Homo sapiens: one gene and its partners. The protein of the gene in region 3 purifies or fractionates together with the protein of the main gene of each other region. This does not show direct contact. Each region holds a gene or a part of one and is shown on either strand. Other genes may lie near its edges.

Region 1 (3,765 bases), on a different chromosome or scaffold from region 3:
AGGATAGGATTCCCTTATTAGAGATAAATACTGCTGTTCTCTTCTAGCTCATTCATTCATTTAGCAGTCAATTGCTCAGTGCCAGGTGCTAGGAACAGAGGCTCAATCTCTACCCTCAGAAAACTCAGTGTGACGAGAGAGAGCCTGACAGATAAAATGAACTATGACCCTGTAAGAGGGCTCAGGATCGTGAATCCTGCAGGCAGAGAAACATGAGCCATAATCTGTCCCTGCATTTTCTAGCTGTGGAATCTTGGGTCAGCTCCTTAACTGGTCTGAGCTTTGGCTTCAGGGTAGTAAAGGGAGGGGTATTAAAGGTCCTGGTTAAATGAAATCATCAGTGTGTGTAAAACAGCATTGGTTCTAGCTCATACATGATAACCACTCATTAAGTGGTAATTATGTTTTTATTATAAGGGCTATGCTGTAATTCAGACATGGGCCCAAAACTACAGGAAAGATAAATTGTTTTTGCTAAAGTATTGCCAAGAAACTTCACAGTTTCTTGGGAGGTGGGCCTTGAGGCATGCAAAGAACTTCTTCAGGTAGGCAAAGAAGAGAGGACACTCTTGGCAGAAAGAGTTGTTGAAAAAAGCAGTAGGGTGTGAAAATACATGGATGTTCAAGTATTTTGGTGAGGCTGTTATGTAAAGTGTTGTTGGTCTTTGGGGAAAATTGGCTTATGGAAATTCCTGCCAGAAGTACTAAGCCCTTATGGTGGTTCTTCCTGCCCTAGCTCTTGGTTGGTTTATATATAAGGAATATATTTGTGTATTTATATATCAGACATTTGGATGTACCTTTCAGTTATTTAGGATTTAGAAAATTCTTTTTGGATTTTCCAGAATTATTTTATCCTTCGGGGATGACAGTTATATGTGTATATACAACCCAGGATGACAAAATCATGGGTCCGGTTTTTGTTGCCAGGGCTGCTGTCTCTTTTCTTGCGGTCTTCATTTCTCACGAGGGTGCTGGGAACTTGATCAGTCCCCTGGCCTTTTGGCACTGTGGCAGAGTACACAAGTCATACCTTTATGGACAGTTAGCTCACAAAACAACTGCATAATCTGGGATCACTCTTGGTAAATCAGGTGGGTGGTGCAGCCAGGAGATCCCCTTTCCTGGTCACAACAGGAGCACAAAGAAACCATTATCTCCATGACTAGCTCCAGAAGCTGGGCCCAGGGAGTCGTGATGAGGAGTGGAGGTGTATTTGGCCTGTAGAATCAACGGCCTTTGAGAACCATACAATGCACCTTATATGGCTTGGGTGATCAAATAACTTAAGGTCCAAATTCAAACACTTTGGAAAAAGGGAGCTTTAATATAATTATGCCAAGGTGATAGGCATAAACTAAGACTGTCCTGGACGTAGGGTCACCCCTGTCTATAGCCATTTAAGATTTTTGAACCTGATGACTAAACAAACAAAACCCTCTTTCCTTTTTAGAATATCCTGTATGCGCTATTTCCCACCAGAGGCAGAGGCCACAGGAGATAGGCCATGGTTCAGGTAGGAAATGCTCTTGGTCACATCAGAACTCTAGATCTGGGGGAATAAACAAACCCGAATTATTACCACACTCTCAAAGTTCTCTTCAATCTGGACTATTTGTATTCCAAAGAAAAATTTAGTGCTTTAGCTATTCAGCAATATTGAGAAAAAACATGAACACATTTATGACTTTGCCTTGACCATTGACTTTTCTAAAATGTGCTTCCTTTTCCTTTATTTCCCTTTTTTTATACAAAGAAAATAGCCCAAATTTCTCCTCTTAGGTCATTCCTTAACCTCTCAGAGAACCAGTTTCCCCATGAATTGGGAATAATGCTCTATTTACAGGGCTGTTTGGATTAAATAAGATGCTGTTTATAAAGTGTCTGTGCCAGGGCAAAGCATGTGGTAGGTGCTTGGTGACAGCATGATCCCTGTCACCACTCTGTCAAGTCCAGTGTTGCTGAGATGTCACACCTGACACCCTCTAAGGCTACCCTGATTGCCAGGAGTGGCCCAGGGCCCTTCTGCAGTCTCCGGGTGCCTTTAGTTATAACCTCTTGTCTGGGTCAGACCATTAGCTTTCATGTCTGCTTCTAGCTACAACTGTAGCCTCCCTTCCTTTTGCCTTCAAATCTGCCACAGCTGCCCGGCAACAAAAAAAGATTCCTAAGCATCTCGAGGTCCTGTTTAAATGGGTTAGGGTCCAAGCAAGCCCTGAGACATCAAGTGGTTGGGTCTTTTATACCTTTTTCATCTCTACAGCCCTGTTCTCTTCCTAAGGCCAGGCCCACAGGGGATACTGAGGAACCACCAGCCCCTTCAGGCGGCACAGCAGACCCTGAAGAGAACTGCTCTAACTTAAGTACCTTCTGACTTCACCATTTTTCCAGCCTCTGGGTGTGGTTCTGATGAACCTTAAACTTGAAAGGCACAGGCCAGAGGAAGGACAGTGTTGACCCACATGTCATTGGTGAGGTTATGATCTCTTTGCTATTATCACCTACTTACCCACCTGAGGCTCCTAGGAAACAATGAATGAAAGGTATAGAAAAAAATTAGGAAGTAAACAGGGCTTTTTTCCCCTTTATGAAAAAAGTACACAGAAGTGTTGAAACGATTCAAGTTTAATTTGTTGATATATGTGTGTACTTAGACAAACACTAAATTCTACAACATACATAATGTCAACATGGGAAAATACCAAGTTTGTCATTGCACATACCAATAAATAAATACATTTGCTCCAGAATACCAAAGTTTATTCAAAAAGTCAATAAAAGCACAGTTTTGCAAATTTGTCTAAAACGCCAGATAATCTTGAACAAAAATAAAATGTCTGACCACTCCAAAATAGGAAAAGACAATCTTGTGCAAATAGACATACACAGTCTAGGCATTGTGAAAACTGGCTGTGTTCCCAGCAAGAGATACTGCACCCTCCTGACCGAGCAGTCAGGCTTCCCTTTCCTAGCCATCCTAAGTTGCGTTCTAGGAAACTCTGGATCTCAGCCTCATCTCCAGCTTTGCCTGGACCTTGCTAGGGGGAGGGAGGGACAGGAGCACAGAGGAGGAGAGGAGAGGGATGTGATGTCTTTCTTAGGAAAGAAAAAAAGGCACAGTGATGAGCTATAAAGGTAGTGATGAGAGCTATAAAGGTAGTGATGAAAGCAAGGAATAATTTTCATTCACCCCAAATCCTACGGCAAGCTTTGACAATGTAACATCTTTATCTTGTGGTTAGGAAAATGGACCTAGAGAGATTATGTGGTTTGCTCAAAATCACATAGCTACTAAGTGCAGTAGTGCTTTCTATAAGACCAACTTGCCTTTCCACTTGGTTGGAAAATTTAAAAACCAAACCTGTCGTAATCTATCTGTTCTGCCCCTCCCGCCTGTATCATGAGATGACTGAAAATTCCAGGTGGCCATAAACTCAAACAAGAGCCTAGCCCTTGGCTTATTACCGGTGGCTACTACAAACCTACAGACCAGAGCCCAGGGTAGTATAGAGTCCCAACTCTGGGCCCTGACTGCAGGTCATTCAGGTCCCAGTCACAGTGAAAGCAGACTCATTCAGCTATCTGGAGAAGTGTAATCTGAGGGCCACTTGGCATCCTGAGTTAACACAGGGATGCCGCAGCTGGGGTAAGGAATTAGAGAAGGGAAGGCCAGTGTTACTGCAGTAAGAGAAAACCAGGAAGTCCATCTAGGAGATGAAATTTGTGCTTGCATAACAGAGCCATGGAAATGGCTATCCCAGCATC
Region 2 (4,721 bases), on a different chromosome or scaffold from region 3:
TACAGCCATGCACCACCAAGCCCAGCTAATTTTTGTGTTTTTAATAGAGATGGAATTTCGCCATGTTGACCAGACTGGCCTCAAACTCCTGGCCTCATGTGATCTGCCCGCCTTGGCCTCCCAAAGTGCTGGGATTACAGGTGTGAGTCACCGCACCCGGCAAATGTAACTTTACTTTGAAGACTTTTGTCTTAATGGGATTAGAACTGCATTACCATTTAAAGATGAGTTTCTGCTGGTTCCCATAGAAGTGTCAACATTTTTCTACGCAAATTTTTTCTTTTTTTAATTTGAGACGGAGTTTTGCTCTTACTGCCCAGGCTGGAGTGCAATGGCGCAATCTCGGCTCACTGCAACCTCCGCCTCCCAGGTTCAAGCAGATTCTTCTGCCTCAGCCTCCGGAGTAGCTGGGATTACAGGCATGCGCCACCATGCCCGGCTAATTTTGCATTTTTAGTAGAGACGAGGTTTCTCCACGTTGGTGAAGCTGGTCTCGAACTCCCAACCTCAGGTGATCCACCGCCTCGGACTCCCAAAGTGCTGGGATTACAGGCGTGAGCCACCGTGCCTGGCTTCTACCTAAATTTTTTAGTACTTTGTATACTATCTTGTCCCTCTTTTTGTGCTTCCTCTTAAACTTATGCTAGCTTGGATAAAAATGTACTTTAGGAAGTCTCCTGACATGGGAGAAAACAATTTTGAAAGCTTCAACATACAACGTATTTTGTGCTTCATTTCAGAGTAAAATTTTTCCCAAGGTATTTTGTTTTTCTGGGACTATTGTTAGTGCATGTTGTTTTTCCTGTTTTATGCTTCTTTTCAACCTGTTTGGTTTTCACTAAGGGATTCCAATGGGTTTTTTTTCTATTAGCATAATTACCAATGTTGAATGTCACCTGGGCATAACTACTTTTCCTAACCCTGTCATACCATTGCTATCTCTTAGCATGTTTTCTCAAGTGAGAAAATGTCTTGACTGAATGGCCTTCTCTTCTTCATTTACTCATTCTCTATTCACTCTAGATTTATCAAATACCTGCTCTATGTGAGGCACAATACTAAGCACTCTGTACATACGTGTATTTTTTTTTTTTTGATGTTAGAGCTTCATCACTGCACCCTTTTTTTTTTTTTTCCCCACAAACAAGGTCTTGCTCTGTCAGTCAGTCTGGAGTGCAGTGGTGTGATCATGCTCACTGCAGCCTCGGACTTCTGGGCTCAAACAGTCCTCTTGCCTCTTCCTCCTAATTAGCTAGGACTACAGGTGTGCACCACCACACCTGGCTTTTTTTTTTTTTTTTCTTTTCGGAGAGACAAGGTCTTGCCAAGTTGCCCAGACTGGTCTTGAGCTCCTGGCCTCAAGAAATCCTCTCACCTCAGCCTCCCAAAGTGCTGGGGTTACTGGCGTGAGCCACCATGCCCAGTCTTCACCTTCTTTTGTAGTCCATCCCCTTCTACTATTCTCTTCCTGCTTTCCTTTCACTTCGACTTTTCCATTTCAGGCTTTTAATTCACTTGACCTCCCCCTACTGCCCTCTGCCACTTGCCTGCTGGGACTGCTGCCCATCATCCCTCTCAATGCTGCCTATCATCCCTCTCAATGCTGCCCATCATCCCTCTCAATGCTGCCCATCATCCCTTTCAATGCTGCCCAGGCCTCTAGCTCCTTCTCCTCCTTGAAATTGCAGGGGCCTGGGGGTGTTTGTACAGTGGCATTAGTGCAATGAGGTGGACTTAGTTAGATAAGTATGGGGAATGGGAGTTCCTTTACTCTTGCTCTGCTGGCTCCAACCCAGGGCAGCTGGCTAAAGCAGTCCTTAACCATGAGGATTTCTTCCAGGGTCATGCTTCCAGTTTTTAGTGAAGGATCACAAAAAATGTTTAGTGTCGTTCCATTGATTTTTTTCCCCCCTCGATTGAAGCTTTTTGAAATGTTTTTTGAACTGCCTTTTGTGTCAAACATGCCTTGTCTTAAAATGTCCTGTATTACTCTGTCCACACTGAATTACAGGCACACCTTTCTCTCAATTCAATGAGAGAGTTTTCAGTGTGATGTAAAGAATTGCTTTAGCTTTCTGCCAGGGGACTGTGTCTACCCTTATAGATGACTGTTTGAATTCAACATTTTGTATTAATAGTTGGGCATATTCATAGGTTATCAGAACTGGAAGGGACCTGAGGAATTATTTCACTTTCCTGTTTTACATGTGGAAACTCAAGGCTTAGATTGATGAATGCAAAGCTCGTTGTCACATGAATGAAAATCTAGGATTGGAATTTGAGTCTCCTAACCCCAAGCTTTTGTTGAATCAACTGATTTTCGATAGTGTTTATTCAGAGAAGAGATATGAATAAACAATGTCCTGTGAGATGATAAATTCTGTATTTTTTCAAGCACCTGGAATATTGATTCATGTCTCCCTAAAATATCTCAATGTTACTGAGACTAAGTGCCAGTGGTCAGGTATGCTTACTACACCAGTGATTGTCAGGTATTCTGCACAAAGGATATATTCGGCTGTTATTCACTTTTGTTATGCTTTTCCTCCTTTAAGAATTATCACTTTGCTTTTTCCCTCCTGGTCATAAAGAAATCATAGTTTTAGACCTTAAAGTGTGATTTTAATTGTCCTGTCATCTTGATGGAAATAATCTGATTTTCTTGACTCAGATTAGGAATTTTTGCTATCACCTTTTCTTAGCAAAATATGATTAATCAGCAAAGTTCTGTAGAATGAAGAATTACTTCTGTTTTCACCAGAAAACTCTTGAACTGTTCTAGTGAATTCAGTCCTATCCCAGGCTGATTCTAGATAGTTCATCTTTGGGTTAGATTATATGTCGGATGAGGAAATGGGTAGATTTGGGTGTGGGTCTAGGCCTGCGAGTGTTTGTGTGTGCATATACACATATAGAAGTAAAATAATTGTAGACGTGCTGCTTTTTGGGGGATGATCTTCATCAGGTCCACAAAGCTGCTTCACCATTTCCTGGAGAGATGGTCCTTTGGCCTTTCATAGTGGTAATTTTAGCTTTCCACATATTTCTGTAGATGAATGTATCCAGGCAGTGCATTGGTATGAGTTACCTTCTCCCTCCCACGTGGAGGAAGGTGTTGGAGGTGACAGTTCTCACGATGTGTAGCTTCCCACAGCCATTTTGGTAAATAGGCTTATCCATAGGCACTGTGGGGGCTTTAGTGGAAATCTTGGTGATGCCTGTAGATTTCGGTTTAGGGATCCGTGCTGGGATTCTCTGCTTGCATACCTCCTTGATCTTGAATTAAACAAGAGAACAAAAGGTAATTAATGGTACAGTTGGTGGAGAAGTAGAAATTGTTTAGGACATGGAGTCAGTTTGGAGGATTTGGCTTTGAAAGCACCAGTTTCTGGGGATGTATCAGATCAAAGATCGTCAGGTTGAAGAAAAGAATGTCAGTAAAGTAATCTGGTGTGTGTTGAATGTGTGCTGTGTGCACAGTTCTTGATAGAGATAGTGGTAGATACAGAGATGAATAGATATTTGGCAATCACGGTGTAGTAGGACATATACAAGAGTAGTGTCCCAAATTAATCTCAAAGAGCCATGAGATTGCCAGAGAAAGGTTAATTTCGAATGAGATTGTCTTTAAGAGTGCTTCATGAAGAATATGGCATTTGACTTGGGCCTTCAGACTTTTAAAAGTTTTCACAGTATGAGTGAGATGGGCAGCTCCAATGATGATTAGTGGAACAGCTTGGTAGTATGTATCAAGAGCCTTATGAATCTTTTCTAGGATGTAGAGAGGCAGTCAAGGATATTTGATTTTAGCATTGTTTATAATGATGAAAAATGGACAGTTAAATGAATAGGATGTGTTAAATGAATTATAGTATAATTATGACAACATGCTTTGTTAATGAGGCCAAAGCTTCAGGAAAACGTTTACTTAGATATGTTAAAAGTAGAATTTAAAACTGTGTACATGCTTTAATTATTTACATGTGAAGAGAAAAATACTAAAAGAAAATGCACCCATGCTATTGGTTGTTAACCCTGATTAGTGGACTTACAGGTACTTTTGATTTTTCTTACATTTTCTGTGTTCTCCACATATTTTATAGTAAGTATGCTATGAGAAAAAGGAACACTAAATTGTTTTAAAAGACGAAAAAGGAAGGAAACAACTTGGAGATCAGGACATTTCTGTGAACAACCATATTATCCAAGCCATGAGCAGTAGAAGCTGCAGTTGAAGTCAGTGACAGACTAATCAAGTCTGCTAATATTGTGACTATAGCATTAATAATAGCCTTCCCAAGATGGATTTCTGTGATGTCCTGTAACTTTATCAAGATTTAGATTGGGTCTCCAATTTAGTGTTCAAAAATCTATGTTGGGATCGTCTTTAAATTGTAGATTTCTGAATCTTACTCCTATGCATTGTAATTCATTGGTTTGTGGATATGTCCAGCAATTCACATTTTTAATAAACTCTCAGAGTGATTTCTTCAACTCAGGTGGTTGGCCTACCACACTTGGAAAAGTGCTGCCATAATTGAACTTCCTTTAGATGTAAGCTTTATTTTTTCTTCACCTGGAACTCTAGCCTACCTGGGTATGCATAGTTCAATACTGTGAAAGGCCGAGACAGATTGGTATGACACACAGTATTGGTGGAGCTCGTTTCTTTTGAGCAACACTGATACGTGTTGGTGAAGAAAATGTGGCTTGGAATGGTG
Region 3 (4,647 bases):
GGGGGGCAAGGGGAGGGACAGCATTAGGACAAATACCTAATGCATGTGGGGCTTAAAACCTAGATGACGGATAGACAGGTGCAGCAAACCACCATGGCACATGTATGCCTATGTAACAAACCTGCACATCTGCACATGTATCCCAGAACTTAAAGTAAAATTAAAAAAAAAAAAAGTTAATGCCAGGTAAATTAGGCACATTTTGAAATTTAAAACTTTTAACAAAATATAACGGAATTTTTTAAACCTCAGTTAAATAAAATTTTAAAACCTAACATAAAAAAGGCTCAATCATAAAAGAAAAAAAAAAAGGTCTGATTAAATTTAACCGAAAAATTCTGTGAGATTAAAGATAGTCACAGAAAATGTTAAAGACAAGCCACATATTAGAAGTCCTATGAGCTAAAGCATTATGATCAGTAAGAATACAAGTAACCTAGCAGAAAAATAGGTATAGATTATGGACAAAAATCTGTCAAATAATGACCAATATATGAAATGAAGCTAGGCTTCTTAAGGAAATATAAGTTAAAACAAAGAGCTACTATCTCATAGCTTTCAGACTGCAGAACTTAAAAATTCTGATAAGACTACGTGTTGGTGACAAGATAGGAAAACCAGAATTCTCTTAAACTGCAGCTGGGAGAGCAAACTTGCATATCACTTTGGAGGGCAATTTGAAGACATCTAAAGTGACAGAGTATACACATCCTACTACCTGGAAATCCATTTTTATTTATTTTATATATATATATATATATATATAAAATTTTTTTTTTTTTTTTTTTTTTTTTTTCAGACTGAGTCTTGATTGCTCTGTTGCCCAAGCTGCAGTGCAGTGCCACGATCTGGGCTCACTGCAACCTCCCTAAGTAGCTGGGATTACAGGTGCACACCACCATGCCTGGCTAATTTTTTTTTTACTTCTACTAGAGACGGGGTTTCACCATGTTGGCCAGGCTGGTCTCAAACTCCTGACCTCAGGTGATCCTCCCACCTCGGCCTCCTAAAGTGCTGGGATTACAGGCGTGAGCCACCGTGCCGGGCTGAAATTCCATTTTTAGACATATGTCTAGAATATCTAGCACATCTGCATGAGGTGACATGATCAAGAATGTACACTTGCAGCACTGTTCAAAATGGCAAAAAAATAACAATTTAAACAATCTTTAGTAAGGGAACTGGTAAGTAAACTGATATGACACTAAACAGCATTATGTTGAGTGGAAAATCAGGTTACAAAAGATTACATACATAAAACATCATTAACATAATTTTTGTTAACTATTATACATTGTTTCTGGATAAAAACACATGGTAAAGTATAAAATCTTAAACAGGAAGGAGTCACACCAACTTCAGAATTAGTACGTTAGCTCTAGGGAAAGAAGGAGGAGAATGGCGCCAGGGAGAAGTACAAAAGAGTAACATTTTATTTATTTAAAAATCAGAAGCAAATATGGCAAAATAGTATGTGAAGGGTACAAGGGCATTTATATTATTATTTTTCTGCATATTTGAAATATTTTTAATTAAAAAGAATTTTAATGGGCACATATGGTATAACAATCAAATAATAACATTAATTACTTGCACCACAAAAATGTATCAAATAACAACATATTATTTAAGCCACAGACACTTATGTACATACATTGGAGCATGTGATAAAAGAGTCAAAAATAAATTTTAAAATTTGCAATTTACTTTGGGGTTTTAAATTAATAATTTTGCTAATCTCATGCAATTTTAAAATGTCCTTAAGCTAAAATTTTAAGGGCTGTAATCCTTTTAGTTAGAGTTGTCAACGCTGTACAGATGTGGTATTCTGAATTTCAGTCTTATCTTGTAAAGCTTTTTCTTTAGTATATAAACAGTTAACAAGCTTTACAATTATACTTACAAGTCTTAAAGAAATGTATTAAGAGTCCTAAGTATGAAGAACAGTTATTTAATTATAACTACTTAATTATAGTGTTTCACCAAGAATCTGATGCCCTAATACTAATGTGGAAAAACAATGCTCCATTATTCCATTTTCTTTTCTGCTTGGGGTTTGGGCCAGAAGCCAAGATGTACCAATACTGGAAAGGTTTTAAACAGTCTTATTATAAAACCATTTTTAAAGGAAAAGTAATAACTTTCACGGGGAGTAACACAATCCTTTGGGATTACTATGTCAGAAAGAGACATAGAAAGATAGAGAATATTTTAAGAAAAGGGTTAACGAGGTAGTAAAATTTTGCTATCTGTACTTCACTTACTGACCCTCAGAGGCTCAAGGCTAGAAGACAATAAATATTTTACAGTAAAATGTAGGAGGCAAACAAAACTGGGCAGGACACTGCATCTATAAATATAATTCGAGAGATCTATAACTCACACATAGTACTTCACTCTCAACTATAATCCTCTGACCACATTCATACTATTTCAATAGTCATTTTACCCAGTAGATGGAAAGCAGTAATTTTATTTATCATGAATTGCTTTTTGCCAATTAAACATGTGCAACAGAGATGATTAGCTGGTCTCTCAAGTAACCTAGATATTAGATATGCTATTTCCATGTAATGGAAGACTGCAATAAAATTATTCCAAGTTCTAAAGTTCCACACTTTTATATTTTGGGCACAATTTTTAAGAGTGGCAAAAGGCAGGTTTTCACTTACTCCACTTCAGCCTATTATACTGAATTTTACCTAGTGCTAAAATCCTTAACTTTCATTTCTGAAGGCTGAAAAACATTTGCTCCCCCAAGTCTCTTATTTAGTATAACTTTGGCTGGTAAGAATAGCTCAGTTTGCTTCCAAAATTGAAAGTCTCCTACAACATTTTTAAATGTTTTTTTTTTCCACTGATCTTTAAGTTTCAGTAATACTCATTTATTTCTTCCCTCTCAATAGAAGGATAACTACCACTCCGCTTCATGAATGAAATAATCAAATTACTATTTCTCTCAAATTCTCACCCTCTAGAGACTCGCTCAGAGTGATAAATTCACTGACAAGTTTACAATTCAAATTTCACTAATATATAGAAATAATTCTCCCACAAGCAAAAAGGTCAGCATCAAGAATTTAATTTTCTGAGTTTCATAACCCTTGATAAATGGAGGCACCTTAAAGTTCAGTTTAAACTCTTTTATATAGGATTTCAGAGCATGCCTCCAGATATCTTAAGACAAGCCGTATTAATAGCTTAGTGTCATTTTTATCATTAAAATAATCTACAAATATCAGAATACTAATTTATTGTCATAACTAATAAATAAGGCTTAAAATATCTATAGATGTAAATCAGCTCTCTCAGTTCGTTTTGCTTCACTTGGACTATTCTAAAACACAGATCAACAAACGGAATGGGTTTATCAATAATATAGTTGTGCAATCTTTTCACAAATTCCAATTCTGTAATTTAGGGGTTTTTCATATTTATTTTTAAATATACAAAGAAATTAAACCATTAATAGAAATATTTTCTCTCAAATATGTAATATTCTTTTGTAAAAGAAAGTTTCCAAACATTTACAAAGCAATCTAAAGTTAAGTAAACCTGATTTTAGGATTATTACATTAACCAAAATAATTTTCCAGAGAAGGTCCTATTTAAAAGTAATGCTCACTGGCTTCCCCACATCCACACTTTCAGACGGATCCAAATCCAATGCCTTTGTTTGATGTACTTCAGGGATCCCTTCCAGTGAAAAAAATCTCAGAAAAACGTCTCACGACACAGTGGACAAGTGGATTTGTTGCTAGATGTAAACCATTTGTACTGAAAAAGAAAAGGTTTTAAATACTAAAAGAACTTTTAAAGTTCTCCTCTAACATACATCATAAAGTACACATACATCTATAGTAACCTTCAAATGATAAAGTGAAAAGGGAAGAACAATAAAATTTTTGCTCTTTCTGTTATCTCCAAAATTAACACAAATTGAGTATTACTTCCGATGGCTACACTAAGTTCTTCCTACTTAGGCTCATGCACACAATCACTAAGATATAAGAAATCTCCTGTGAAACAAATGAACAAATGGCAACTTCTTTTTCAGTATGTTTAAAAAGAGCACAGGGCTCTGATGCCAGATGGCTTCCAGTACCAACTCCTGTACTCTCCTTCATGGTCTAGATCTCAGAAGACCTTCTACTTCTTGAGTGGTAAAAGGTCACTGGAAACACCCATTTATTAGAGGGCCTTGATTCTACCAGTCTCAGTAAACTGCTAATTATCTTTGGCAGATTTTAAAAAATCACTTTTTAATATATCTCCCATTAGCTACAATTAAGTTTAACACACATTTTCTCTTCCGAAGTTAGACATTGTGTAGGTGTGTGTGTGTGTGTGTGTGTGTGTGTGTGTGTTTATGTGTATAAAATACATAAAATATAAGTAAGTTAATTTCTCTTTAGACTTACCAAGCAGGCTGAATGGAATTTTTTCTTGCATGTTCTACAGGCTTTTTTGGGAAGGGAATAGTTGAAACCGTGAATGACTGAGAAACAGATCATGCAATCTTCAACACCCTCAAAACGTTTGTCTACGTTATTTTTCCATAAAGCTAAGCCTTCCATAATACTTCCATTCTGTTAACAAGAAGAAAAATAAGTCACTACACACTGATAACCACCAATTTTATTTTTA
Region 4 (5,030 bases), on a different chromosome or scaffold from region 3:
CCAGCTAATTTTTTGTAGTGATGGGGTTTTACCATGTTGTCCAGGCTGGTCTTGAACTCCTGGGCTCAAGCAATCTGCCCACCTCGGTCTCCACAAGTGTTAGGATTACAGGCATGAGCCACTGTGCTCAGCCTATAATACTTTAAAATCTTGTGCATATCCTGCTCACATGCACGAGAACAACCACCTTTCACCTTATGCTTTTAGGTTCAGTGATGAGCCTTGCATGAATCAGTTACTCATTGGTGGTTGCAAATAGGTATTTTTCTCATTCTACCATTCTTTTCACAATTATTTGCAGGTATTATTCTGTAAAGAAAAGCTTTTTCTGTCACAGGAATGAGTCTTGGAAAAAAGAAAAAAAAAAGAGAAGAGCTTTATCTTCCTGCCACCACTGCCCCAATTATCTTCCATAAGTTTTTAACAGTAATATCAAAAAATTATCTTTAAACATTGGCTTAACACAGTTTAAACTTAAGCTTCTTTCAAGTAATTTAACATGTTCGCTCTTCTTATGAGGAAATATTTCCTGCAAGGGAGCCAAGTCTTTTAGGTTCTTTCCCAGATTAATGCTGAAAATAACAAATAGTCTTCTTTTCCTTTTGCTACCAAAGAAACATTTTGACATAGGTTTTAACTGCAATGACTGACAAAAATAAAATATGCATGCATATTTTACACTAAATTGAGCAGAGATGAGTAAAAAGGAAAAATTGAAATTATCTGAAGACAGCACTGAGAAATCCTAGCTAAGATTTAAGAATTCTGTGCACAGAAGTGTACACTTGTAAGCAACAACTTTAAAACGTCAAATTGAAAAAGTCCCAAAATACATTGTTAGAGTGTGTTAGAGATTCACACACTTTGAAATTTAAGCTCTAGATTTTTACCAGACATTCTTGTAACATTCTTATTTTCCTTCAATCTGGAAATGAGAAGTGTGAGGCAGAGTGAACTTCACTTGGCTTGCCAAACAGGGAACCACAGCAAAGGTGGGAATCTTGATTCTAACCCAAAAAACTTATTTGAGAGATCACAGTATTAGCCCTATTGACATATGGGACAAAGAAGACAAAACTGCAAAAGGAACAATCAAAAAGAGGTTACCTACTACCAATGTCTCCTCCATAGTGGAGAGGTTTACTTTCTAAACTGCCACATTAGACAGTACTTATACCAATTAATCATTCCATATTGTGATGTAAGAATTTAAAAATACAAAGAATTTTATCTGTTACCTTATGTGAAACTGATTGTATCTATCATCACCAGATGGTTTTTTAATAGCTACAGCTAACTTCTTCCATCCTTCTTGAGGATCAATAAAATCTGACAGCTTCCTAATTAGTCCAACATTGAGGCAGCGCACATATGTTGATGGTGTTATGGGTTTGTTCATCTTCTATTCCTAAAATATGGAAAAATCTCATTAAAATTTTACAGTACTTTTAGAGATGACATCTGTAAGCTTATATATCACACTTTGCTATATCATATGAAATGTCAGCAACTGATTATACCATAATAAAGAAACATTCCAAAGTCAAGTCATTGATATCCTAAGATGAAATTAAAATTGTAATTCATTTGTCCAATTATCCTCTGGGTTTGCTTCCTTTTTCCACCCATTAATAGCAATAAAAATCGGAGGACTTTTTTCTGACACTGATATTTTCCTAGTAAAATTTATAGAAAGGGGCAAAAAACTTACCAGAAAAATTCTTAAGAGTAATATCAACAAACTATCAGAATTAGCATATTCAGAAATCAAATCTATTAATAAAAACATTTACCTTTCAATTTATGTTTCTCAATTAGTACTTATTTACAATTAAAATTTATGCAACATTCTTTGGTAGAAGTAAAAAAAAAAAACGTACTGAAATGATTTGTGTAGCATTAACAGATATGGTCCACCCACCCACTTTTCACATACTTTGCTCTTCCTTGACCTCTGCACATTTTTTGAGTCCATGAGATCTGCCTGACCACAATTCATTTGCTACTACGCCAAAACCTGTGCTTCACCACTTCAACTACTCTCTAGACAGAATCTTTATTTCTGCAATCCCCCTTTACTTCTGCTACTCCATCCTGGAGAGCTGCAGCCAGGGATAAATCTAACAACTTTACTTGTACACCAGGGTTGCTGATGTGAATACAAATTTATGGTAACCCCCTTTCCACAGGGCCTTCAACACTGCCGTTAATCCTTCCACTTGTCTTCTCTCATAGTCCTTAGTGACTATTTCATACCTTTACTTCTTTCTATGTGGATTTTATTTGTTCTGCGTGTCCCTCATTCTCAATAGGAAATGATCTTTCCTTCCAATTAAGACAAATAGACTCAGATATTCTTCTGTCAATTATTTTTGCTTCCCTATATATATTTTAAAAATACAATTTTAGAGTAAATAATGTGTTCATATGGAACAACATTCTAAAACTATCAAAAAGAGTAAAAAGCGAAAAGCTTCTCTGTATCAGAGGCTTCTATGTTAGTATTCACTTCTTCTCTTTGGACTTCTTTGACCACATCTAAATAGGTCTAGCTGCCCTTCACCTAATTATCTTTCATCACTGCACAATGTATTTGTAATCATATACTTATTTGTTTACCTGTTTACTGTCTCCCATATTCGATTTTAAGATCCATGAGTTCAGGACCATGCTAATTTTATTCATGAATATACACCTAGTGACTTGCATACTGTAGATAATGGTATTGTTCAGTATTTACTTTTGGAACAACTAAATTATTTCCCAGTACAGTTTTATCATCTCTATTTTACAAAGGTGGTAAGTGAGAGATCCAGGACTTACAATTATGTCTGACTCCAAAAGTCATGCCATACAACTCTGCTTTTATAACACAATGCATTGTTCATGCCATTCTCTATTTCAGAAAGACCATTCCTTTCCTTTCATTCATGAATACATTCAGAAAATATTTATGTCAGTCTTTGTACTAACAAGTGGGAGCACAGAGAAGAGAAAATCTTTGTTTCCAAGCTGTTCAGTATACCAGGGGATACAAACAGTGACAGGGAGTGATAAATGCTGCAAGAATGTTATGGGGCCCAGAAAAGGGGCATCAAGCAGAGGCAGTCTGGAATAGGGATATCAAGACAGATTTGGTTGGAGTAGGAGGTTGGAAGGATGAATGAAAGGGAATGAGGATAAGCCCAAAAGAAAATTCCAGGCAGAGGGAATAGCATGGGAAAAGGTAAGAGCATGTGTGTCTCAGGCAAAGAGCTTGCTATGGCTGGACCACAGGATGCCTGTGATTAAGTGAGAAGAGATGAGGGTGGAAAGGTAGCAGGGCCAGATCATCATGTACCTCATGTGCTAAGACAAAGAGTTTGAACTTATAAACTAAAAGTTACAGGAGAGCCACTTTAGGATTTTTAGGAGGGATGTTAAATAATCTTATATGGTTAAGTGGATTCCTCTGGATAAAAATCAAAGGGATGTATATTGAGGCAAGAAAATTAGTTTGAAAACTTCTGCAATAATCCAGGTGAGCAGAAAGGAGAGCTTGGAAAAAGTATAGGGTAGGGGAATGGAGAGGTAAAACGTCAAAACATTTAGGAGGCCAAATCAAAACAATTTCACTAGAGATGAGCGATTAGAAGAAAGGGAGATAGAATGAAGTTTTTTTTTTTTTTTTGGCTCATGTTAAATGTGAAATATCTACCTTTGGCACTATCTAGGAGCCTTCATACCAAGTACTTATATATGTGGTCTGGAGCTTAGGAGAGAGGTTTCAGCAAAGAATGCTCATTATGTAAGTATTCTCATATATAAGGGGTTTTCAAAGAGTTCATGGAAAATGCATATCGTGCAAAAACCATGCATGGATTTCAATTTTTTTTTTTTTGCAAAATGTATTTCCAAAATAAACTCATACTAACTTATCATTCATGTCTAAACAGGATCTAGTTGAGACACTGAGAAGAATAAGACAGTTTGAAAAGAACCTCTACCACAGCAACATGAATTCTGCTAAAACTAAAGCAAGAACAAACACCACATTTATGGTGGAGGTTGGTTGGAAGAATGGTGAAATCACTGATGCTTTATTTATGGGGACAATGCCCCCAGAAAATCAGCAGTGTACAAATCAGTAACTCATTTTAAGGGATGAGATGATGTTGAAGATGAAGCCTGCTGCGGCAGACCATCCACATCGATTTTCGAGGAAAACATTCATCTCGTTTGTGCCCTAAATGAAGAGTACCTATAATTAACAGCAGAACCAACAGTGAACACCATAGACAACTAGTTCAGCCTATACAATTCTGACTGAAAATTAAAGTTGAGCAAACTTTCCACTTGATGGCTGCCCAAACTGTTGTACCCAGATCAGCTGCAGATGCGAGCAGAGCTTTCAATGGAAACTTTAAACAAGTGGGATGAAGATCCTAAACCATTTCCTCAAAAAATTGTAACAGGAGATGAAACATGACTTTACGAGTATGATCCTAAAGCACAATCAAAGCAATGGCTCCCCCAAAGTGGCAGTGGTCCAATTAAAGCAAAAGCAGACAGTCAAAAGCAAGGGCATGGCTGCAGGTTTTTGGGATGCTCAAGGTATTTTGCTTGCTGACTTTCTGGAGGGAAAAAGAATGGTAACATCTGCTTATTAGAGAGGGTTTTGAGAAACAGTAGCTTTTCTAAGTGTTTCTAAACTAAAGCTTTTCTGTTACAGCTTTAGTCAAATGTTTAGCAGAAAAACACCTGGGAAAGCTTCACCACAGAGTCCTTCTCCATCACAATGCCCCTGCTCTTTTCTCTCATCAAACAAGGGCAATTCTGTGAGTTTCAACTGGAAATCATTAGGCATCCACCTTACAGTCCTGATTTGTCTCCTTCTGACTTCTTTTTGTTTCCCAATCTTGAAAAATCTTCATAGAGCACCCATTTTTCTTCAGTTAATAATGTAAAAAAGACTTCATTGATGTGGTTAAATTCCCAGGACTCTCAGTTCTTTAGGGATGGCCCAAATGGCTGGTGTTATCGCTTACAAA
Region 5 (4,992 bases), on a different chromosome or scaffold from region 3:
AATGGATTAGGAGCTAACTCCTAATTTTACCAAATCAGGAAACACAAACCTAGAAACAGGTGATGATATAGGTGAATATGCCTCTGGAAATGGATAAGCATATGCTATGCAAAAAAATGACAATTTGCTGGTAGAAATGTAAATTGACGCAAGTTTAATAGCAGCATATGGCAAAATGTACTGAGATCCTTAAAAAAAGGTACACTAACTTCTTGATTTGGTAATTCTACTCTCTAAAATTTCTAAGGAAATAGTTAACATAAACAAATGTTTATAAAAATGCTCACTGCTGTTTTTGTTTGTAATAGCTAAAAAAAGGAAAAAGCTTTATATTATTGGAAGTAAAAGCAGCAGCTGGATGAGGTGGCTCACATGCCTGTAATCCCAACACCTGGGAGGCCGAGGCAGGAGGACTGCTTGAGTCCAAGAGTTTGATATCATCCTGGGCAACATAGTGAGACCCCATCTCTCTGAAAGACAAAAACAAAAAACAAAAAACAAAAAAACCAAAAAAACCCAAAAAACTGGGTGCGATGGGATATGTCTGTGGTCCCAGCTACTCGGGAGGCTGAGGTAGGAGGATCACTTGAGCCTGGGAGATCGAGGCTGCAGTGAGCCATGATTGTGCCACTGTACTTCAGCCTGCAACAGAGTGAGACCCTCTCTCAAAAAAAAAAAAAAAAAACAAAACAAAAAGCATTAGGAAGCTATATGTACCATGTGTTCAACAATGTAGATACAAATTTACGAAAAAAAGACAAAAGTATGACAAAATGATAACATTTATAAAAAGAAAAAAGTACACAATGAGTCCATTGCTTAAAGGAAGCAGCAAAATAACTAATAATAAAGTCAAAACTTATGTAATTTCAGAAAGCTGGGCCTGAGCCTAAAAGATGATGACCAGAGAAAGGATGAATGCAGAATATATAGTAATATGCTTTTGAAATTACTCCTAATAGTCATGACATGTAGCCTTTGCATGAATGCTGATGGATGCTTTTCTTATGCGCAATTTCAACACACTATAGTTCTAATATATCCAGGGCTAAATCTGTAACAAGATTTTACTTAACAACACTTCTCAGATTTGGCATACACTGACTGCATTAACCTCTAAGTAATATCCAAACAACAGACTGGATCCTCATATGTAATTATAAAAACAGCCATGGATTGTTGTAGTATACATCAACCCTGAAATGCAGTCACTGGGCATTTAAGTATTCAAATAGGTTACCAGGTACAATAGTATAATTAAGTTCAGGACCTGTGGACTTTTAAGGTAAAATGGGGATATGATTTTGCTCTTGAACATAAAAGCTCCAAGTACAAGTTATCTTTCAACTTTACTTAGCAGTTCCTGGTTAGTTAACTATGAATCTTGAAGAAAGTAAACTTATTTTATTTGTATATGAATTTTCAGTGCTTAGTACATACAACTATGAATTGAATAAGAAGAAAACTGTGATTTTCAGCATTGTACAAACTCCCAAAAAGAACTGACTTGCAAAGGAATTTAATCAGTTTCTAAACAAGACTGCCAATGTAAAGTAATTCAAACTTTTGAAGTTAATGAAAATATTTATTCAAACCTAACTGTAGTACAGTCTCAAGCTGAGTTAAATAAACATTAACTATATGATATTTAGTTCCTTAGGAATAGACCACTGCCACACCATACAAATTTCTTACATCACAAGTTTTTGCAGTAAGGTTCAGCAATTAAGAAGACATGATTTCTACACTGAGAAATGTTGTGTTAAAGTTGGATGGATTTATTTTTTTAAAGGCCCAGTACAAAAAAATGGTTGAGGAAAGTGACTCTTCAACAAAATATACACCTGTAGAAAAAAATCCCTAATATACTGATATTTAATTGAACGGAAAGTACTAAAGAGAACATACTTTAATATCTAGGCACAATTGGTCAGGTACTAATTATAATTTCTGTTCTCATTTAAAAGTTTAAACCAATTCTTCAACTGGACTGATGTGTGTGAGTCTAATACAGAGAAGGCACCTCTCTCATCTCTCACTCTCCTTAAGGACCTTTTGAGAGAAACTCTTTGTAACACTTTAAGGGACACAGACAATGCACTATATCTAAGTATAGATATAGTTATTTAACATACCCATTGTAGGAGAAACTAAAATATAAAACTATGATTTCTCTTTTTACATCTTATGATGGACACAACACCAGAAGATAATCCTCCACATAAACTCTCACATAGAACACAAGATTTAAATTATATGTGCATTGGTCACTACAATGTAAAGAGTTCTATGAATTAGTGCAATTCTTTAAATCCCCAGCATTTAGGGGAAAAGTACATACCGAGAAATCTCTACTACAAACCAAAATTTTATGGCTCAATAGTCTAACCACTTAAAGTTCTGTAAAAAATCTTAAGTTATAAATGAAAGATCAGAACATTCAATAAATGGTTTACAAAATTCTCTCTTTAAAACAAAGAGAACAGAGTGATCAGAGTAGGTAAAGTGTGAAATTCCAGAAATATAATACTTACAGCAATTATAAGAAAGGGGTAGTATTCACTCTAGGAAAAAAACTCATCAAACTGTTGATTTCTAATTAGATATTTTGCTATCAGTTGAGGTGGTTATTATTTTGTAGTACTTAGTGATTGTGTATTTAAATGTCTTATTGAATAGTTACTGAAGGTAATTTATAAGAATAAGCATCATTTTCCTCCAAAACAAGTGAGAAACTATTCCAGATGAGTAAGTCTCAGAATTAGGGATCATAAGAAGTCAAAAAACACAGTGTAAGAACATTAGGTTGATTTAACCTCTATTTCAACAAGATTTACACAGTATTTACAATATGGAATTGTCAAAGCTATACAGTTTTGCAGATTGGCTTTACTTACATTTCTGCAAACGTTTTTCCCAAAATAAAAATATACCAAGTAAGTCTATTTACAAACTAGGAAGCTGTTTCAGAAACAGCATGATTTAGATATAAAGTGAAGTTTCAGTACAATGAAAGTGCAGGTCATGCTTTCAGATTCTGTCAATATCCCATTCCCTACACTCAGTTTAAGGGATATGAGTTTTTAACACCTACTGTTCTTATGTGTCCAGAATGTTTACTCATCATAATGCAATGATAACAAAAATTTGTCTACATCCATTCCTGCTGGAAATGAACTGGGAAGCTTCTTTTTCTGTTGAAAAAGAGAAAGAAAAAATAAACTCAAAACAAGGCCAAAATGCTTTCTTAGTAAGTCACCTAAAACAGTATATTGGGTTCTTTCACATACTACTAAAATTGTCAAACTTTTTTAGTCTATTAGAATTTTACTTCTATAGAGAAGTAGAGACAAGTTTTATAAACCCAAAGTTACTTAAATATACTTCAATGGCACCTGAATGTTAGTTTATGGCAAAAGACATGATACAAATCCAGAGTGTCTGAATGTTGAATGAGACAAGATAGAACATGCTTTCTATGTTAGGTGGTTATTACTGCTTAGAAAGCTTTACTAACAGATGTTTAGGGTTACAGGTACTTATCAGTTCCAAAACTTAATATACACTAGATACTTTATGTATACTACATTTAGACTTCACAACCTAAGATACCTGGTAATATCATGTCAAGTGATGAGGCTGAGACTCAGAAAGGCTACAGACTTAACCATGATCACAGGACCAATAAGCAGTAGATGCAGGATTCAAACCCAGACTTGTAGGGCAACAAAGCCTAAATTATTTCCCTGATACCATACTTCCTCTATGATATTTTAAGCACTTTCTTTCTATTCAATCCACTTACTAAACAGCTAACCAAATCGAAAATAAATGGATTTCATTTATCAATGCTATCCCTGCACTGCCTTCCTAGAGACAACCATGCTTAAATAAAAAACATAAGGCCAGGCGCAGTGGCTCATGCTTGTAATCCCAGCACTTTGGGAGGCCAAGGTGCGCAGATCACTTGAGCTCAGGACTTCAAGACCAGCCTGGGCAACATGGCAAAAGACTGTCTCTATAAAAAAAAAAAACCAGAAAAAATGACCAGGCGTGGTGGCTCATGCCTGTAATCCCAGCATTCTGGGAGTCCGAGGTGGGTGGATCACAAGGTCAGGAGTTCAAGACTAGCCTGGCCAACACGGTGAAACCCCATCTCTACTAAACATACAAAAATTAGCTGGGTGTGGTGGCAGACACCTGTAATCCCAGCTACTCAGGGGGCTGAGGCAGGGAATTGCTTGAACTCAGGAGGCGGAAGTTGCAGTGAGGCAAGATCACGCCACCGTACTCTAGTGGGTAACAGCGCAAGACTCTGTCTCAAAAAAAAAAAAAAAAGGAAAAAATATTAGCCAGATGCAGTGGCGCATGCCTGTAGTCCCAGCTACTTGGGAAGCTGAGGTAGGAGAATCACTTCAGCCTGGAAGGCGGAGGCTGCAGTGAGCCAAGATCGTACCATTGCACTCCAGCCTGGGCAACGAGAGTGAAACCCTCTCTCAAAAAAATGGAAAAACATACGTAAATTTGATTTTTCCACTGCTCTAATATGCTAACATTTTTAAGGGCCTATGGAAGAGATTACAAGACGTGGGGGAAAAAAAAAACTGAACATCTAAGAACAAAGTCATTTATTACTTGGTAGTTCTACACAATAGTGTTTAATATTGTTTCCCAATCTTTCATGACTATGTCACGCTCATGAAAAAACTTGAGTTCTACCAAGAAAGAAAGAAAAACTTTTTCTTTTCCCCCGGAAAGATGTTTATAAACAAATGCCTCAGCAGTTTTTCCTGAAAATGCTGTTTCACCTAGACACCTTGTGCGTACTACACTAACACTGCTGGACTGCTTTGTTGCCCTACAAGTCTGAGTTTGAATCCTGCATCTACTGCTTATTGGTCCTGTGATCATGGTTATGTATTTTGTCAATGAAAACTAAAAGCTGTCTTAGCCATAACGTTCAGTCAAGTTGTTGTGGCAAGAACTGCTGAA
Region 6 (4,072 bases), on a different chromosome or scaffold from region 3:
GTTAGGTTCCCCCAGCCGGATGTTCCTGTTGCATCCTCTACCTAATAATTATCATCCTTTATTGTGTTGGGACTCAGAAACAAATACCCCAAAATACGATGCTTTGACATGCTGGACTGAAGATGCAGCCTCAAGGTCTCTCTGACCTCCTACCCCCTCCCCGCCATGAAGCTGTTCTGTGAAGTTTCCTTATCTGCTTAAAGTCTAGACCTGCCAAAGGCGGGGGGAAAATTACTCCTGGTCCTTTCCGTTTTTTGTTTTTTTTTTTTTTTGAGATGGAGTCTCGCTCTGTTGCTCAAACTGGAGTGCAGTGGCGTGATCTCCTAGGTTCAAGCAATTCTCCCACCTCAGCCTCATGAGTAGCTGGGACTACAGGTGCATGCCACCATGCCCGGCTAATTTTTGTATTTTTTTTAGTAGAGAGGGGGTTTCACCATGTTGGCCAGGCTGGTCTCAAACTCCTGACCTCAAGTGATCCGCCTGCCTCGGCCTCCCGAAGTGCTGGGATTACAGGTGTGAGCCACTGCACCGGCACGGAGTTTTCATTAGTTTAATTCATATTGCAGGAAGAGAGACAAATCTGTCAACATATCTGGACAGACTTGTCACAAACTATTATCTGCCCTGTAGGCCAAACAGACTTTGTCTTAGGCCATCGTATGTTCTTTAAGTCCACTGAATCCCCCTAAAAATAACTCATTATCCCTCAAATTGCCACATTTCCTCCATCTCCCCTTCCCCTATGAAGAAGGATATATAAACATCTGTACCCTATTGGGTTACTGAGTAGTCATTATGCCATTCCCCTGTGATATACACATTAAAATAATTGCATGTTTTTTCTCCTAATAATCTGCCTTTTGTCAGTTGATTTTTCAGTAAACCTTCAGAGGGTGAAGGTAAAGTTTTCCCTTGGCCCCTACAATTGTAATCACTTATTTAATGCCAGCCTTCCCTGCTAGACTATAAATTCTGAAAGCAAGGCTCATGTGTCTCCTGTGCTACTGCATTCCCACAGTTAACACAGTAATAATGGAAACAGCAACCATTTATTGAGCTTACTAATGCACTGGGTGCTATGCTAAGTAAGCCCTTTATAGTCAGTATTGTATTTAATCCCAACAACCCTACGCCACTGATACTGTCCCCATTTTATAGATAAGAAACCATGGCTGCTTGGTTAGGAGTGGCAGAACCATGAACCCAGCTCTCATTCAATAAAAAATAGTATCACATCCACTTGAACCACCTAATGTACCATTTACCATTCTTTTCAGGCACACAATCCCACAAATTTCTCATGAACACTCATTAACATCTTAACCCTTCACTTGTTCTTCTCCCCCTATCCTCTGCCATTTGTCTAGATCAATGACTCTCAAATTAGTTATTTAAACAAAACCAAGAGTATTCATCTATTAAATAGAATGAAAATTTTCTGAAAATGTAGTGAAAACTGACCCAGAAAGGTCAATACCAAGACCTGTTAGAGTTATTGGACTTGATAAAGGAATAATTTGAGCAGCCAAGCAAAAAATCAAATCACTTATGTAAGAAAAATGTCACATGACTTTAGGCTTCTCTATAGCAATACTTTAATATTCCAAAGAAAAATATGAACTGAGAATTGTATTATCTAGCCAAATTGTTTTTACTGTGTAAAGGCTACAGATAAACATATTTGACATGGCAAAAATTTAGGGAAATTGTTCCATGAGTCTTTTTTAAGGAAACTATTAAATCATTAATTTCAGCTGACCAAGAGATTAATGGGAATGTTTTGAGTTTCAAATACATTTAAACTGTGGAACTAAGAAATGTGAGGATGACAACAGAATGTAAATATTATATGTCCTCACAAGGTAGGAATGATACAACAAAAATTGAGAGAAAAGGAAAAGAAAGTGGAAGTTCACTGATACAATAATAGTTGGGCACCAGAGTGTATCAGCTAAAGCTAAGCTGACAAGTCAAAGAGAAGTATAATCACATTTAACATACAAAAGTAGGTCAGGTGTGGTGGATTATGCTTGTAATCCCAGCACTTTGGGAGGCTGAGGCAGATAGATCTCTTGAAGCCAGGAGTTCAAGATCATCCAACATGGTGAAACCTCGCCTTTACTAAAAACACAAAAATTAGCCCGACATGGTGGCGCATGCCTGTAATCCCAGCTACTCGGAAGGTTGAAGCATCAGAATCGCACGAAGCTAGGAGGTGGAGGGTGCCGTGAGCTCAGATCACACCACTGTACTCCAGCCTCAGCAACAGAGCAAGACTCTGTCTCAAAATAAACAAACAAACAAACAAACAAACAGTATAAGAGTAAAATCCAATAATATATCGACCAGAACTGGTTAGTAGAGGAGGAGGGAAGGAAGAAATATGCTAGGCTTAAATATTGCTCAAAAGGAATTATTGGTGACTGAAAATAAATAGAAGAGTGTTATAATTATATGGATAATCAGCTGGGCGTGGTGGCTCACGCCTGTAATCCTAGCACTTTGGGAGGCCGAGGCAGGTGGATAACCTGAGGTCAGGAATTCAAGATCAGCCTGGCCAACATGGTGAAACCTCGTCTCTACTAAATATACAAAAATTAGCCAGGCATGTTGGTGCATGCCTGTAATCACAGCTACTCAGGAGGCTGAGGCAAGAGAATCACTTGAACCTGGGGGATGGAAGTTGCAGTGAGCCAAGATCGTGCCACTGCACGCCAGCCAAGATGACAGAGAATAACTCCGTCTCAAAAAAAAAAAAAAAAAATTTATATGGATAATCAATAGAACAAAAATTACCCACAAAAGGAAAAAAAATAAAACATACCATAAAGTAAAATATTTTTAAAATCGTTGAAACAGAAAGGAGAACATGATTAGAGAACAACAACAAAAAAGACAATTTCCTGAAACTTGTTCTCAAATTTGTTCCTCTACAGAAAGCTTTTCCTCATGAAATAAATAAAAGACATTTGACATGGGTCACTTACTTTAATAACAATACATATACCATGTTAACACCATGGAATGCAAATTCAGATTAGACAAGAGAATTTCACAAGTGTGATAGCCTTCTGTATATTATATAAAAGTTTGGGTATACTGTCTGGCCAAACCAGCTTGCTCATAAGTCATTAACCAAATCCATTATAGGTAATTTGTTCAGTTCAATGTTTACAATTCTTATGGAAAAAATTAGCAACACACACATTTAAAACGTGTTCATTTACCTTTGCGTGAGTGCTTAAAATACATATTTCTATTTCAAGATGACATTTAAAAATTATTCTAATATATCAGCAGCAAAAATATAATTTGCAATTACAAAAAACTAAACTAGAATCCTTAAATTATTCTCATGTTTACAGTTGTGATTCTTTAATAAATACTATTATGCAGCTCTATTGTTTAAGCTTTCTGGATTTGGTTTAAACACATGCATATATATTGTCAATTGTGGGAAGCTTTACAAGTTATATTCCATGCACTTTTTGGACAGAGTTCTAACAGAGCCAGCCAGTCCACAAAACAGGCAGACAAAAGTTGAATTAACTGGGGCAAATAGGACTCTTATGCAACATCCAAAATATCTGACATTCTGCAGCAAACAGGGAGTACCTTCAGGATTGGCCTGTTATCTTCTTTAGAACTAAGTTCATCTTAAAAATTTAAGAAGGTGGACATTTCAACACCATCAAGTGCATTTAGGTGACATGTTTAAGTTAACTTGACTTCCTTGAATGACCTAGTTAGTAAACTAGTCACTAGTAATTCGGTCACCAAGCAAATCAAGCCTGCAAGAAAGGAAGCCAATATTCAAAATGCCATGTTACCATCTAAACCCATACAAATTAGTTTATTTCCAACAATAATAGGTAACTTTAATAATAAGACATCTAACTAAAGCAAGCTCCTCCAACAAGACCAAGACAGCATCTCTTCTTCTAAGGCTTAGGTTTTGCCCAGAATTCCCGATACATGGAATAGCCCATACCTAAAGAAAAAGAATGCTAGTTAAGCATTTCAGTATTTTCTTAAATATTCAAAAATAAAAACCAGTTCATAAAATAGCTGA
Region 7 (3,772 bases), on a different chromosome or scaffold from region 3:
TTGCTTAGCAGAACGGTGGGGTGGCCTGCCCCAAGAGGCTGTGCCCAAGTGGAGAGAACCAACGTGGAGAGGCTGTCACCTATTCAGGATGTGACAGGCCCGGCATCACCTGTGACAGCCAGTCCTGTGGGATGGAGGTGCGGGTGTCCTGGAAAACCAGGATTCCCACAGCAGAGGGGGCCAGTACCAGGTGGAGGGTGCAGAGCCCCAGCTGGCCCCATGCTCACACCAGGTCCTTGGAGCCCCCCGCATGGCCCACCCGGCCCCATTTCTCCACCTGGCTGGCTGCAGGTCTGCTGGTTCCCTGGTTTTATAAACTCCATTTTCCAAGGATGTGAAAACGTAGCAATAGGTCCCACTATATAATAGCTCTTACTTGCTTTAGCCTCTGTGTGTGTCTCGAGATGTACATTTTTTATACTATATATTAGGTTTCTCCCAAGAAGCAGAATCAATAGAGGGGTGGAGGGTATACGTGTAAGAAAGAGATGTATTTTTCAACTCATGTGATTGAAGAGTGACAAGTCCAAGATCTTCAGGGCAGCCTGGAGCCCCAGGGAAGAGTTGATGCTGTGCTTAAATAGAAGGTCACTTTTTTTTTTTTTTTGAGACGGAGTCTCGCTCTGTCACACAGGCTAGAGTGCAGTGGTGTGATCTTGGCTCACTGCAACCTCCACCTCCTGGGTTCAAGTGATTCTCCTGCCTCAGCCTCCCGAGTAGCTGGGATTACAGGTGCATGCCACCACGCCCAGCTAATTTTTGTACTTTTAGTAGAGATGGGGTTTCACCATGTTAGTCAGGCTGGTCTCAAACTCCTGATCTCGTGATCCGCCCGCCTTGGCCTCCCAAAGTGCTGGGATTACAGGTGTGAGCCACTGTGCATGGCCAGAAGGCCACTTTTTAGCAGATTCCCTCTTCTTTGGGGAAGGTGGGTCTTCTGTCTCTTAAAGCTGTCAACTGATTGGATGAGGCCCACCCCCATTGTGAAGGGTCATCCACTCTGCCTGGTTGACTGATTAACATATGAACCTCATCTGAAAAATGCCTTTACAACTAGTGTTTGACCAAATATCTGGGAACAATGGCCTGGCCAAGTGGACACGTTAAATTGACCATCACAATATTAAATTCAGATTATATTTTTAATACTGTTACATATTTGATGTTTATGCTATATGTCATATATATAGGGGGTATATATACACACACACATACACACACAGACAGGTAGAAGGCAGGTAGAGTTACTCATTTAATGACCACAACAGCCCTCAAGGTTGGTGCTTTTATTCACAGAAGAGAACACGGAGGCAAGGCGTGTGTCAGAGGCAGAGCTGGGGTTTGACCCCAGGCCGCTGGGCCCCCGAGCCCACACTCCTGTCCTCTCCCTGGGCAAAGCACCGCTTGACCCCTTCCCCCTCGCCCCCCAGGGTCTGTACTTGGTGTACCACCCCGTGCAGCTGTCCACCCCGCACGCCGTGGGCGTCCTGCTGCTGGGCCTGGTGGGCTACTACATCTTCCGGGTGGCCAACCACCAGAAGGACCTGTTCCGCCGCACGGATGGGCGCTGCCTCATCTGGGGCAGGAAGCCCAAGGTCATCGAGTGCTCCTACACATCCGCCGATGGGCAGAGGCACCACAGCAAGCTGCTGGTGTCGGGCTTCTGGGGCGTGGCCCGCCACTTCAACTACGTCGGCGACCTGATGGGCAGCCTGGCCTACTGCCTGGCCTGTGGCGGCGGCCACCTGCTGCCCTACTTCTACATCATCTACATGGCCATCCTGCTGACCCACCGCTGCCTCCGGGACGAGCACCGCTGCGCCAGCAAGTACGGCCGGGACTGGGAGCGCTACACCGCCGCAGTGCCTTACCGCCTGCTGCCTGGAATCTTCTAAGGGCACGCCCTAGGGAGAAGCCCTGTGGGGCTGTCAAGAGCGTGTTCTGCCAGGTCCATGGGGGCTGGCATCCCAGCTCCAACTCGAGGAGCCTCAGTTTCCTCATCTGTAAACTGGAGAGAGCCCAGCACTTGGCAGGTGTCCAGTACCTAATCACGCTCTGTTCCTTGCTTTTGCCTTCAAGGGAATTCCGAGTGTCCAGCACTGCCGTATTGCCAGCACAGACGGATTTTCTCTAATCAGTGTCCCTGGGGCAGGAGGATGACCCAGTCACCTTTACTAGTCCTTTGGAGACAATTTACCTGTATTAGGAGCCCAGGCCACGCTACACTCTGCCCACACTGGTGAGCAGGAGGTCTTCCCACGCCCTGTCATTAGGCTGCATTTACTCTTGCTAAATAAAAGTGGGAGTGGGGCGTGCGCGTTATCCATGTATTGCCTTTCAGCTCTAGATCCCCCTCCCCTGCCTGCTCTGCAGTCGTGGGTGGGGCCCGTGCGCCGTTTCTCCTTGGTAGCGTGCACGGTGTTGAACTGGGACACTGGGGAGAAAGGGGCTTTCATGTCGTTTCCTTCCTGCTCCTGCTGCACAGCTGCCAGGAGTGCTCTGCCTGGAGTCTGCAGACCTCAGAGAGGTCCCAGCACCGGCTGTGGCCTTTCAGGTGTAGGCAGGTGGGCTCTGCTTCCCGATTCCCTGTGAGCGCCCACCCTCTCGAAAGAATTTTCTGCTTGCCCTATGACTGTGCAGACTCTGGCTCGAGCAACCCGGGGAACTTCACCCTCAGGGGCCTCCCACACCTTCTCCAGCGAGGAGGTCTCAGTCCCAGCCTCGGGAGGGCACCTCCTTTTCTGTGCTTTCTTCCCTGAGGCATTCTTCCTCATCCCTAGGGTGTTGTGTAGAACTCTTTTTAAACTCTATGCTCCGAGTAGAGTTCATCTTTATATTAAACTTCCCCTGTTCAAATAAGTGGCTGTGTGGTTTCTGACTGGTGAATGGGCCTGACTCGTGAATGGGCCTGACTGCAGGTCTGACTGGTATACGTGGGCTCTGTTTCTGGTATGAGAAGGGATGTCTGAGAGAGATGCTTGGGTCTCGGCGTCAAAGCATTGGGTGCCCGTGGGTGCGTGGCGCCACCCTGCCCCTCTCCCTCCCATGTCAGCCCTTTGCTGGGGCTGTTTTTGGGTTGAATGTGGAGAGTATTCCATTCCCCCCCAAGGAGATGAAACCAGGCTTGGCCACCTGCCCCCGGCAAGTGAATGGAGAAGCCAGAAAGAGTGCCAGGTTTGTCTTGCACCTGGAGAAACAAGAGTTTCACACAGGCAGCCCAGTGCCCATGCCAGGGCAGGGGGCCAAGCTCAGAGTGGCTTCATTGCTTCACATGAGAACTGGTCCCACAGCCAGGCCGCCTCCCAGACAGCCTGGAGGGTATCGGAACTGTGACCCGCCCAGGCTGACTGCTGAGCCCTAGTGTTCGTGCACTGGTGCCCCACCACTACCTGTTTGAGGATATGGGCCTGAGGGGTCCCGTGCATCTGTGCTGGACACACACCACAAGAGTGATTCAAATGCCGGGGAGACGGGAGCACACTGCCCTGCATGGCTCTGAGCGGAGTGGACCCTGCCTTTTCTTCCCAGACATTGCGTAAATTCAGTTCACAGAGGCTGGGGTGTGGTCACTGTGAGCTCAGATCCGGGCCTCCCTGCCTGCGTTGGAATCCTGGCCCCAGCATTTAAGAGCTGTATGACCTTCAGGGGACCTACCCTCTCAGTGTCTCAGCTTCCTCTTTTGAAAGATGAGGGTCATTATTATCTTCCTGCCTTGATGTGAGAAGGGCTTTCCAGGCCAATTTGCTGGGAGAGCTCTTGGTTCAGATGTGGA

Evidence for each region.
Region 1: the proteins of LTN1 (region 3) and RIC3 purify together in Homo sapiens (co-immunoprecipitation; one large-scale study listed by IntAct). This does not show direct contact.
Region 2: the proteins of LTN1 (region 3) and FILIP1L purify together in Homo sapiens (affinity purification with mass spectrometry, with the first as the bait; one large-scale study listed by BioGRID). This does not show direct contact.
Region 4: the proteins of LTN1 (region 3) and IRAK4 fractionate together in Homo sapiens (co-fractionation; one large-scale study listed by BioGRID). This does not show direct contact.
Region 5: the proteins of LTN1 (region 3) and NPAT purify together in Homo sapiens (affinity purification with mass spectrometry; one large-scale study listed by BioGRID and IntAct). This does not show direct contact.
Region 6: the proteins of LTN1 (region 3) and HIGD1A purify together in Homo sapiens (affinity purification with mass spectrometry, with the first as the bait; one large-scale study listed by BioGRID). This does not show direct contact.
Region 7: the proteins of LTN1 (region 3) and DHCR7 purify together in Homo sapiens (affinity purification with mass spectrometry; one large-scale study listed by BioGRID and IntAct). This does not show direct contact.

The regions. Positions count from the first base shown.
Region 1 is NC_000011.10:8,105,086-8,108,850, reverse strand, and holds the end of RIC3 (protein RIC-3 isoform a precursor), read left to right. Parts: 3' UTR 1-2,795; downstream 2,796-3,765. UniProt on the Homo sapiens protein: Molecular chaperone which facilitates proper subunit assembly and surface trafficking of alpha-7 (CHRNA7) and alpha-8 (CHRNA8) nicotinic acetylcholine receptors.
Region 2 is NC_000003.12:99,827,330-99,832,050, forward strand, and holds the end of FILIP1L (filamin A-interacting protein 1-like), read right to left. Parts: intron 3,277-4,721; coding exon 3,085-3,276; 3' UTR 1,482-3,084; downstream 1-1,481.
Region 3 is NC_000021.9:28,926,734-28,931,380, forward strand, and holds the end of LTN1 (E3 ubiquitin-protein ligase listerin), read right to left. Parts: intron 4,590-4,647; coding exon 4,422-4,589; intron 3,778-4,421; coding exon 3,715-3,777; 3' UTR 1,411-3,714; downstream 1-1,410.
Region 4 is NC_000012.12:43,764,481-43,769,510, reverse strand, and holds part of IRAK4 (interleukin-1 receptor-associated kinase 4), read right to left. Parts: intron 1,409-5,030; 5' UTR 1,400-1,408; coding exon 1,239-1,399; intron 1-1,238.
Region 5 is NC_000011.10:108,155,826-108,160,817, forward strand, and holds the end of NPAT (protein NPAT), read right to left. Parts: intron 3,195-4,992; coding exon 3,117-3,194; 3' UTR 1,390-3,116; downstream 1-1,389. UniProt on the Homo sapiens protein: Required for progression through the G1 and S phases of the cell cycle and for S phase entry. Activates transcription of the histone H2A, histone H2B, histone H3 and histone H4 genes in conjunction with MIZF.
Region 6 is NC_000003.12:42,781,330-42,785,401, forward strand, and holds the end of HIGD1A (HIG1 domain family member 1A, mitochondrial), read right to left. Parts: intron 3,992-4,072; coding exon 3,942-3,991; 3' UTR 1,579-3,941; downstream 1-1,578. UniProt on the Homo sapiens protein: Proposed subunit of cytochrome c oxidase (COX, complex IV), which is the terminal component of the mitochondrial respiratory chain that catalyzes the reduction of oxygen to water. May play a role in the assembly of respiratory supercomplexes.
Region 7 is NC_000011.10:71,433,498-71,437,269, reverse strand, and holds the end of DHCR7 (7-dehydrocholesterol reductase), read left to right. Parts: intron 1-1,296; coding exon of another isoform or gene 1,297-1,430; coding exon 1,431-1,895; 3' UTR 1,896-2,079; coding exon of another isoform or gene 2,080-2,160; 3' UTR 2,161-2,859; downstream 2,860-3,772. UniProt on the Homo sapiens protein: Oxidoreductase that catalyzes the last step of the cholesterol synthesis pathway, which transforms cholesta-5,7-dien-3beta-ol (7-dehydrocholesterol,7-DHC) into cholesterol by reducing the C7-C8 double bond of its sterol core.